Linked DNA regions of Homo sapiens: region 1 is linked to region 2. The links come from fine-mapping of genetic effects on gene expression. Tissue or cell type: tibial nerve. Region 2 holds a variant in brackets; the other region holds the start of a gene. All regions are shown on one strand. Distances are from middle to middle. Region 1 holds the start of NIPA1 (NIPA magnesium transporter 1). Region 2 overlaps NIPA1 (NIPA magnesium transporter 1).

Region 1 (5,463 bases), 34 kb after region 2:
AGGTCTGGAGTTCGGGACCATCCTGGCCAACATGATGAAACCCCATCTCCAGTAAAAGCACAAAATTAGCCAGATATGGTGGCACGCGCCTGTAATCCCAGCTCGGGAGGCTGTGGCAGGCGAATCGCTTGAACCCGGGAGGCAGAGGTTCAGTGAGCCAAGATCGCGCCATTGCACTCCAGCCTGGGCAACAAGAGCGAAACTCCGTCTCAAAAAAAAATCATAATAAAAAATAAATAAATGAATGAAAGCATAGTATATAGGTATAAGAAACAGCATTTATCTTTTTTTTTTTTTTTTTTAAGACAGAGCCTTGTTCTTCTCGCTCGGGCTGGAGTGCAATGGCACAATTTTGGCTCACTGCAACCTCCCCCTCCTGGGTTCAAGCAATTCTCCTGCCTCAGCCTCCCGAGTAGCTGGGATTACAGGTGTGAGCCACTGCACCCAGCTTATCATGTTTTTTTTAAAAGGCTACTCGCTTGTTTATTTTCCTATTCACCAATTCCTTTGAGCCACATGACCTGGGTTGAAATAACACAGTTTTCCTCAACTTTTTAGAAAACTAACTAAAGCTGGTATTCAGCTTTCCTTCGTTTTTCCCTAATGTCTTACATCTGGTGTTCACGTGTTCTTAGGCTCCTCCTGGTTGTGACGTGCTTTCAGATTCCATGACCTTCACAGAGGACTGGTCAGGTGTACTGCAAGATTTTTTTTTTTTTTTTTGAGATGGAGTCTTGCTCTGCCGCCCAGGCTGAGTGCAGTGGCGGATCCCGGCTCACTGCAACCTCTGTCTCCCGGGTTCAAGAGACTCTCCTGCCTCAGCCTCTCGAGTAGCTGGTACTACAGGTGCGTGCCACCACACCGGGATAATTTTTTGTATTTTTAGTAGAGATGGGGTTTCGTCGTGTTAGCCAGGATGGTCTAGATCTCCTGACCTTGTGACCCGCCCGCCTCGGCCTCCCAAAGTGCTGGGACTACAGGCACCAGCCACCGCGCCCGGCCGCAAGATGTTCTTCTACTCCGGTTTGTGTGGTGTTTTCCTCATGCTTACGCTAGGGCCGTGGATTGGGGAGGTGAGGTGCTTTCTCAGGCCATCCTATTTATAAGGTCACGCGCGTTGACCATCTCACCCAGTCCTGGGGCCTGTCACACGGACAGATGCTCCCTGAAGTGTGGCTGCGGTGTGTGTGTATCTGTGTGCCTTAGAGACAGACACATCTGCATCCTTGGAAAATCATACTTGGTTTTATTTAATTCTATTTAAATTGTATGGGAGACCACTATGCTTTCACTTTAAAGCTAAATTCCTTAAATTATCCATGATTTTATATTTTCATTCGAGACTGTCGGGCCCTTTATCTCTTCTCTGAAGCCAACGCCTGGCTCACTCAGAGAAAGTTTCACCTGCATTCCGCCATGTAAATTACGAGTTCACTTTCTCTCACAACCCAAGAGTCGGGGGCCACATCCTTCCCAGAGAGCTCTTAATATTCTTCTTCTAAGAGTATGGCCAAGAACCACAAGACTTTCTCAGTCCCTCTGGAAGCAATGGAAACGGACTGTTTCACAGCCTGCCATATCCTGCATTGGCAAACCGGTCCCGTCCGGGGCCTCCCAGCACAAACGACACTGACAGAGAGCTCTACCCCGCAGAGCACTACGGAGTGCGGTGCTGCGGCACATCCACCTGGGAAGTGGCCTTGGCCCGTCCAGGGCTTGGTTTTGGATCTGCCGCGCGTGTTCTCCAAACTGAAGATCACTTGTATTCATTTGGTGCAGGTCTAAGGCGCAGCGGGCTCCGTAAGAGCACCCCAGGAACGCACAGCCCTGAGAGCCCGCCCGGGTCTTCCTTTTGCACCAGCGAGGCCCCTGCGGGGGACTGGAAATCCCAGGTCTTGCTCTACCGAGCGTACCCTAGGAGCGGGCCGCGCATCGGCTGAAGCGGCGCTTCCAGGCGGGCGCTGGGCTCGAGCACCCCAGCACCGCGTCCGCAGGAGGCTCCCGGCCGCGGGTTGCGGGCCACGGCGAGGGCTGCCGGGCGGCGCGGGGCAGGTCTTGGACCGAGGGAAAAAGTCAGCCGGGGAAGCCCGCACACCAAAGCAAGCCGCTCCAGCCGCTGAGAACGGAGAAAAGCCGTGGCGTCGGCGAAGCGCCGGACGCTCAGGACGCACCTGTGATTCCTGGGCCGCTCCCGGGCCCGAGCGCCAGGACGCGGCGGCAGCCTGGGCACGCCGCGGGGAGCACCCGCCCGCGCAGCCTTCCCCCAACCTGGGCCCGGGCCCCGACCCCGTCCCCTGCCCCGACCCGGGCGCCCCCACCTGCGACCGCCTTCTCCGCCGCCCGCCTCCCCCACCCGCCCGCCGCCTGCCGCCTGCCGCCCGCCCTACCTCGCCGCTTGGCACGCACGATGCCCTTCTTCTGTAGCACGAACGTGGACCCGTTCACCAGGCTCGACACGACGGCCACGCCCAGGCCGAGCGACACGGCGGCGGGGCTCGGGCTACGCGCCCCCTCCCCGGCCGCCGCCGCCGCCGCCGCCGCCGCTGCCGCAGCTGCAGTCCCCATTCCGCCCGCGCCCGCCCTCCGAGCCTGCGCCTGCGCGCCGCGCCCCGCGGGGCGGGATGGGGGGTGACCGGGAGGCGCGGGCGGGGGAGGGGAGGGGGACGGGTGGGGGAGGAGCAGGAAGAGGGGCGGGGGCGGGACGGGGGTGCCAGGGACCGGCGCCTTAGGCTGCGGGGACAGCAGTGGCGCCGGACGCGGCGGCAGTGAGGGGCCGGTGAGGCGCTGGGTGGGGCGGGGGTTCCCGGATTTCGCAAATGGAAATGCAGGACTCCTGGTTAAGTTTCCAGCGCGGAGAAACACGCATACTTTCTGAGTGGTGTCCTCTGCAATATCCGGGCAGCGGAGCGCGGCAGGACGCACCGGCGGGCAGCGGTCCCCGAAGAGCCTCCAGCGGAGGCCGGCCCAACTCACCGGAGCGCGAAGCCCGGCGCGCCGCTGCAGAGATCGAAGGAGAGCCCTGGCGCTGGGCGTTTCTCTTCCGCCCTTGGCGCTAGAGTCAGCTACATGGGGCTCTGGGCTTGTGATCCCATAGTCTAGTTTCCTCGTTTTAATAAACTACAACAAGCCGGGCGCGGTGGCTCACGCCTGTAATCCCAGCACTTCGGGAGGCCGAGGCGGGTGGATCACAAGGTCAGGAGATCGAGACCATCCTGGCTAACACAGTGAAACCCCGTCTCTACTAAAAATACAAAAAATTAGCTGGGCGTCGTGGCGGAGGCCTGTAGTCCCAGCTACTCGGGAGGCTGAGCCAGGAGAAGGGTGTGAACCCGGGAGGCAGAGCTTGCAGTGAGCGGAGATCACACAACTGCACTCGAGCCTGGGCGACAGAGCGAGACTCCGTCTCAAAAAAAAAAAAAAAAAGAAACAACAACAAAATTACAAGCTTGAAAAATAGGAAAAAGTTATTTTATTTTTTTTGGAAAAAAATATTTTTTAAAGTGACTCAATTCCACAACCCTCACCTAATTATTAGTATTTTAGGTGTTTTCCCATAATGTATACATACTTTTACATGTTTCCAATTACAATATACGAAATTTCCTTTTTATTTAATATATATCAGTTTCTGTATCGGTACATAAATATGATTATTCTAATGACAGTATAATAATTTGTCTAACCATTCAGCCATTGTTGGGTGTTAGGTAGCTACCAGGTTGGTTTGTTTTTTTGAGACAGAGTCTCGCTCTGTCGCCCAGGCTGGAGTGCAATGGCGCGATCTCGGCTCACTGCAACCTTCCGCCTCCCGGATTCAAGCGATTCTCGGCCTCAGCCTCCGAGTATCTAGAATTACAGGCGTCCGCCACCACGCCCGGGTTAATTTTTGTATTTTGAGTAGAGACGCGGTTTCACCATCTTGGCAAGGCTGGTCTTGAACTCCTGACCTCAGGTGATCCGTCCGCTCTACCTCCCAAAGTGCTGGGATTACAGGCGTGAACCACCGCGCCTGGCCGGTTGCTGCCAGGTTTTGTTGTCTATAAACGATGCTACAAGCTGGGCACAGTGGCTCACACCTATAATCCCAGCACTTTGGGGACCGAGGTGGGAGGCTCGCTTGAGCTCAGACGTTCAAGACCAGCCTGGGCAACGTAGCGAGACCCGTCTCTACCAAAAAAAGAAAAAAATTAATTAGCGGGGCGTGGTGGCTTTTACCTCCAACCCCAGATACTCTGGAGGCAGAGGTGGGAGGATGGCTTGAGGTGGAGGTTGCAGTGAGCTGTTATTGCACCACTGCACTCCAGCCTGGGCAACAGAGCAAGATTGTCTCAAAAACAAACGAAAAGTATAAACCTTTTGGCAGCTTTGCATACAGCATTATTATTTTGTGAAGAAATATAAAATAGGGCCGGGGAGGTGGCTCATGACTGTAATCCCAGCACTTTGGGAGGCGGAGGCGGACGGATCCGGAGGTCAGGTGGATGGATCAGGAGGTCAAGAGATCGAGACCATCCTAGCTAACACGATGAAACCCGGTCTCTACTAAAAATACAAAAAATTAGCCGGGCATGGTGGAGGGCGCCTGTAGTCCCAGCTACTCAGGAGGCTGAGGCAGGAGAATGGCGTGAACCCGGGAGGCGGAGCTTGCAGTGAGCCGAGATGGCACCACTGCACTCCAGCCTGGGCGACGGAGTGAGACTCCGTCTCAAAAAAAAAAAGAAAAAAAAAAGAACTCCACCCCAGACATTTTTCCATGTGAGTACATAGGTTAAATGACAGGCATATTTTATCTGATGGGGAAACACATATGGGATTTTAATTAAAAACATAAAACTATATTTTGCTTGAATTTAACAAAAGAAAAACTGAAATGAAACTACAGTAACTACTGAATGACAAACATTATTTTGCCATGAGATATTACTTCCTAAAAGATACACCTAAAATTAAAGTTAGTAGGCCAGGTACAGTGGCTCATGCCTATAATCCCAGTACTTTGGGAGGCCAAGGCCAGCAGATCACTTGAGCCCAGGAGTTTGAGATCAGCCTGGGCAACATGATGAAACCCCATCTCTGCAAAAAAATACAAAAATTAGCCAGGCATGGTGACATGTGCTTGTAGTCCCAGCTACTCAGGAGGCTATGGGAGGATCACTTGACCCCAGAAGTTGAGGCTACAGTGAGCCATGATCACGCCACTGCACTCCAGCCTGGGCAACAGAAGTGAGACCCTGTCTCAAAAAAAAAAAAAAAAAAGTGAGAAACACTAAGAGGGTGGGAGTTACGTTTATTTTAACTCTGGGTTTCAATTTTGGGCTATCAATTGATTCCTTGCAAGGAGAAATGAGGAAATCAGTTCACTTTTCAGCTCCCTAAAAAATTTTTTTTTCGTCTTATGTTTTGAGATGGAGTCTTGCTCTGTCACCCAGGCTGGAGTGCAGTGGCGTGATCTTGGCTCACTGC
Region 2 (5,000 bases):
ACACCACTGCACTCCAGCCTGGGCGACAGAGCAAGAGTCCGTCTCAAAAAAAAAAAAAAAAAAAAAAAAAAAACCATTTACAGCTCCTAAATGTTTACATGGTCCTCTATTGGAACCATTCTCTTTTTTTCTTGTTGTTTGTTTTGTTTTTTTGAGATGGAGTTTTGCTCTTTGTTGCCCAGGCTGGATTGCAATAGCACGATCTCTGCTCACTGCAACCTCCACCTCCCAGGTTCAAGCGATTCTCCTGCTTCAGCCTCCTGAGTAGCTGGGAATACATAAGCACCCGCCACCACGCCTGGCTATTATATTTTTAGCAGAGACGGGGTTTCGCCATGTTGGCCAGGCTGGTCTCGAACTCCTGACCTTAGGTGATCCGCCGTCCTCGGCCTCCCAAAGTGTTGGGATTACAGGCGTGAGCCACTGTGCCCGGCCTAGAAACATTCTCTTAACAATACAAGTGAATGGAGATGCTCCGAGGTTTCAAAAAAGCACCTGGGAATCCAGGGGGCAGGGGTAAGGCAGGGGACAGGAGGGAGGACTTTAAGCTGTGGGGGTGTTTGTGGGTTTTGCAATGATTGGGGGCTGCATCCAGTGGGCAGAGGCATGTGCAGACAGCAACCCCCACCCCCATCAAAAATCATCCCATTCTCGTCACAACTGCTGAATGTCTCCTCGGACTTGTAACTGAAAAATATGCCTATAATAATCAGAGCCTAGAAACTATTTTATGTATGAAACAAAGTAATTTTTGCATGGATTTAATATATGCTGAATTCTTCAGACATGTCACTTCCATGTAAATTGAGGGAGGATTGTTCTTTGATCAAAACTTCATTAAGAGTTATGCTCCATCTGAGGATCATTTTGTTGATAGCAAGACCTCAAGTGTCCCAGTCAATAACATTACACCCCCACGTCAGTCTATATCTGCAGCTACCAGATTCTCAACCACTCCTCACAAGGTGTGGGGTCGGCCAGCTTCAATAGGTCTTCTCTTATAGTGGGACCTGAGCATTTACATATTGAAAGGGATGTTTTGTTTTAAAGTATTGTCCTGGTATTTCTCCTTTATATTACAGTTAGGGCATTAAATTGATGGTTTGAACTTGTGTGTATAAGGAGGTTGTGTTTTCCATGAAATCCATTCCAACATCACAAATGGACCTGAGAGGGCTGGGAACTGCTGGCTATGCAAACCAGCAAGTGTGGACATGCAAACCAGAGAGTGTGGACAAGAAAACCAGCGAGTGTGGACAAGAAAACCAGTGAGTGTGGACATGCAAACTAGGTGTTAACATGCAAACCAGCGAGTGTGGACTTGCAAACCAGGGTGTGGACATGCAAACCAGGGTGTGGACATGCAAACCAGCCAGTGTGGACAAGAAAACCAGTGAGTGTGGACAAGAAAACCAGCGAGTGTGGACATGCAGACCACCGAGTGTGGACAAAACCAGTGAGTGTGGACGAGAAAACCAGCGAGTGTGGATATGAAAACCAGGGAGTGTGGACATGCAAACCAGCGAGTATGGACATGCAAACCAGCGAGTGTGGACATGTAAACCAGCAAACTGATGTGGAGGCAGTTTTGTGCTGGAACCTGCCTAAACTTGTTGGTAAGCAACACAGGGTGGTCTACTTAAAGTGAAATCTATACTTTAAGTCTGTTGTAATCACGTAGATAGTAGTTTTTAGTGTATTTATCAAAATAAAAAAAGGACGGGCATGGTGGCTCACGCCTGTAATCCCAGCACTTTGGAAGGGCGAGGTGGGCGGATCACGAGGTCAGGAGATCAAGACCATCCTGGCTAACATGATGAAATCCCATCTCTACTAAAAATACAAAAAAAATTAGCCGGGCATGGTGGCAGGCGCCTGTAGTCCCCGGCTACTCAGGAGGCTGAGGCAGAAGAATGGCGGA[G/A]CTCGCAGTGAGCTGAGATCGCGCCACTGCACTCCAGCCTGGGTGACAGAGCGAGACTCCGTCTCCAAAAAAAAAAAAAAGAAAAGAAAAGAAATTATGTCAAAAGATATATAAACAGGGCTATATGAGGAATCTAAACTTAAGAGATGCCAGGTCTTTGTTCTCACAGAGCTTCACGCTGGAGGGAGTGAAGTGCTGAGGTGGAGATAGAGTGGGCAGGGTACACCAGGAAAGGTATGTGGGGAGGGGCGGGTGGCAGTCAGACTTGGGAGGGTGGCCCAAGGGGAGCCACTGTGGGAAGGGAAGGCGCCCATGCACAAGGCCCCAGAAGAGAACCCGAAGGAATACCAGGCCACGGAGGCTCCCCGCAGGGCCTGAGGATCAGGCGGGAGGGTGAGGGCAGAGGGCTAGCCTGCGAGCACAGCCCACTGATGCACGTTCCCAGAGAACACAGATCTACAGTAACAGATCAGGGTGGACACACGGTTCCTCTGCCCTGCCAGGAAGCATCCAATTTGAAGACGTGGTTAAAAAAGTTGGCACTCCTACTGCAAACTTTCTTGGCAGTGCTGCTAGAAAGGAATTACCTGGATTGGTCAGCTTTTCCTCCAGCTCAGCCTGAGTTGTCACACTCTCAGACTTTGGGGAGTGGATAATCAGCACGACGGAGCCTGCACAGCTTAGCAGGCACCCCAACTTGCCCAAGATGTTGAGCTTTTCCTTCAGGAGATAGGAAGCTAAAATGGACCTTTATTGAAAAAAGAGAAATCATTAAAGTTTAAACCAAACTACCTGACCTTTCTTCTAACAGCAGATATTTTATCTAGAAAAACCATTTTCTTTTTCTTCTTTTTTTCCCTTTAAGAGACCACCTCCCACTCTGTTGCCCAGGCTGGAGTGCAGTGGTGCAATCACAGCTCACCACAAGCTTGAACTCCTGGGCTCAAGTGATCCTCCTACCTCAGCCACCGGAGTAGCTGGGACTACAGGTGCATGCCACCACACCCAGCTAATTTTTTAAAAATTTTGTGTAGAGACTGGGTCTCACTAGATTGCCCAGGCAAGTCTCAAACTCCTGGGCTCAAACGATCCTCTTGCCTTGGACTCCCAAAGTGCTGGAATTATAGGTGTGAGCCACCATGCCTGGCCAGGATTTTCACACCAATTCCATGTATAACCACTACGTAGTTAATGATACACATAATTTACACCACTATATTACTATGTCAGCACATATAAAATACACCAGAGTATAAAAAGTTTTATGACTGACCAAAAATAAAAGTAATGCTTCCTTTCTTATAAAAGGAACCAATCAAAAATACTAATATCTATGCTACATGGAAAAGTAGGGTACAAAAACTGTCAAAATAATTATAAGTAATGCATGATAAAAACAAAATAAATTAAGTGAAAAATGCACAAACAAAAGAAAAAATAAAAATGCTAATAGTAATTGCAGTAGTAGAAGTAGTATGGGGTGGCTATTTCCTCTAATACTGAAAACTTTTAAAAACTGGTCACATTATTAATGCAAAAAAATGTATTCTTCAAAAACATCTATAATCTCCAGGCTTCTAACTTGTTTCTTCTCTTATTTCCCTGTGTAATTATCAGTATACAATCTGAATTGGAACACCTTGCCCTCAGTAAGTCACAGGACTGGTCATTGTCACTTTACTCATGTCTGTGCTGAAGACGATCAGAAAACAGGAACGTCCGGGAGGAGGGCATACCAGGCTCAGGTATGGACCGGATTACTTCCTTTAATACCTATTTTAAAGATAAGGAAACTTGAGCCTCAGAAAGGGTCAGCATTGAACCTAAGGCCACAAAGCTAACAAGAGATACAAGCACGGTCATGACACACCCACAGGTCCTAAACGGCCTACTTTTCCCTTGTACCACTTCACATCCTTGTCCCTAGACAGCCTGTTCTTAAGAAGCTCCCAACAGTGTCATTGGGGAAATAAGCAACATCACTGAAAGAAACAACAAAAGACATGAATACACAACTAGATGTTAAATAGAGAAGCTCCACCGAGTAGCTGCCTGGAAAAGGAGAAACCAGAAATGCAGGGGGCTCACAGGGCAAAAAGTGGGCCTGGAACTGGCCTCGGACAACGGGTGGACTATGCCAAGATGGGAAAGGGTTGCCATGCACGAAAGTGGACAGTATGAGCCACGAGGCCAAATCATCTCTTATTCCATTGTGGAATACCAGAGGACAGTGCCATTTTCATTCATTCATTCATTCATTTATTGAGACAGAGTCTCACTCTGTGACCCAGGCTGGAGTGCAGTGGAGCAGTCTCGACTCACTGCAACCTCTGCCTCCCGGGTTCAAGCAATTCTCCTGCCTCAGCCTCCCGAGTAGCTGGGATTACAGATGCCCGCCACCATGCCCTGGGGGATTTTTGTATTTTTAGTAAGGACGGGGTTTCACCATGTTGGCCAGGCTGGTCTCAAACTCCTGACCTCAAGTGATTCACCCGCCTCGCCTCCCAAAGTGCTGGGATTATAGGCATGAGCCACTGCGCCTGGCTGACAGTGCCATTTTTAAATTGGGTTATCTGACTTTTTACTGATGCACTGTAAGAGTTTCTGTTTCGTTTTCTTTTGTTGAGACAGAGTTTCCCTCTTGGTGCCCAGGCTGGAGTGCAATGGCGCAATCTCGGCTCAATGGAACCTCCACCTCCTGAGGTCAAACAATTCTCCTGCCTCAGCCTCCCAAGTAGCTGGGATTACAGGCATGTGCCACCACACCAGGCTAATTTTTTGTATTTAGTAGAGACGGAGTTTTACCATGTTGGCCAGGCTGGTCTCGAACTCCTGATCTCATGATCCACCCGCCTCGGCCTCCCAAAGTGCTGGGATTACAGGCGTGAGCCACCACGACCGGCAAGAGTTTTTATGTGTTCTAACTACAAGTCCCTTATCAGATATATACTTTGAAATTTTTTCTCCCACGAGTTTTCAATTCATTGATGGCATCCTTTTAAGCAGAAAGGTTTTTAATTTTGATGACATCGAATTTATCTATTTTCCTTCTGTTGTTTGTGCCCTTCGTGATCCACCT

What was found. PIP is the estimated chance that this variant, and not a neighbour inherited with it, causes the effect.
Region 1: it holds the start of NIPA1, and the variant in region 2 is fine-mapped to the expression of NIPA1 in tibial nerve (GTEx, PIP 0.94).

Annotation. Positions count from the first base shown.
Region 1 is chr15:22,783,759-22,789,221 of GRCh38, reverse strand. NIPA1 (NIPA magnesium transporter 1) reads right to left here and starts at 2,578. Exons shown (of 5, transcript NM_144599.5): 1 at 2,388-2,578. The coding sequence starts at 2,565. RefSeq lists an enhancer at 1,531-1,640 and silencers at 1,991-2,120, 2,131-2,280, 2,351-2,710, 2,673-2,906.
Region 2 is chr15:22,817,982-22,822,981 of GRCh38, reverse strand. It overlaps NIPA1 (NIPA magnesium transporter 1), which reads right to left. Exons shown (of 5, transcript NM_144599.5): 4 at 2,509-2,669. Among named protein-coding and RNA genes, the nearest start is that of NIPA2, 18 kb to the left of the region's middle. The variant G/A (reference allele first, on the strand shown) is at 1,922.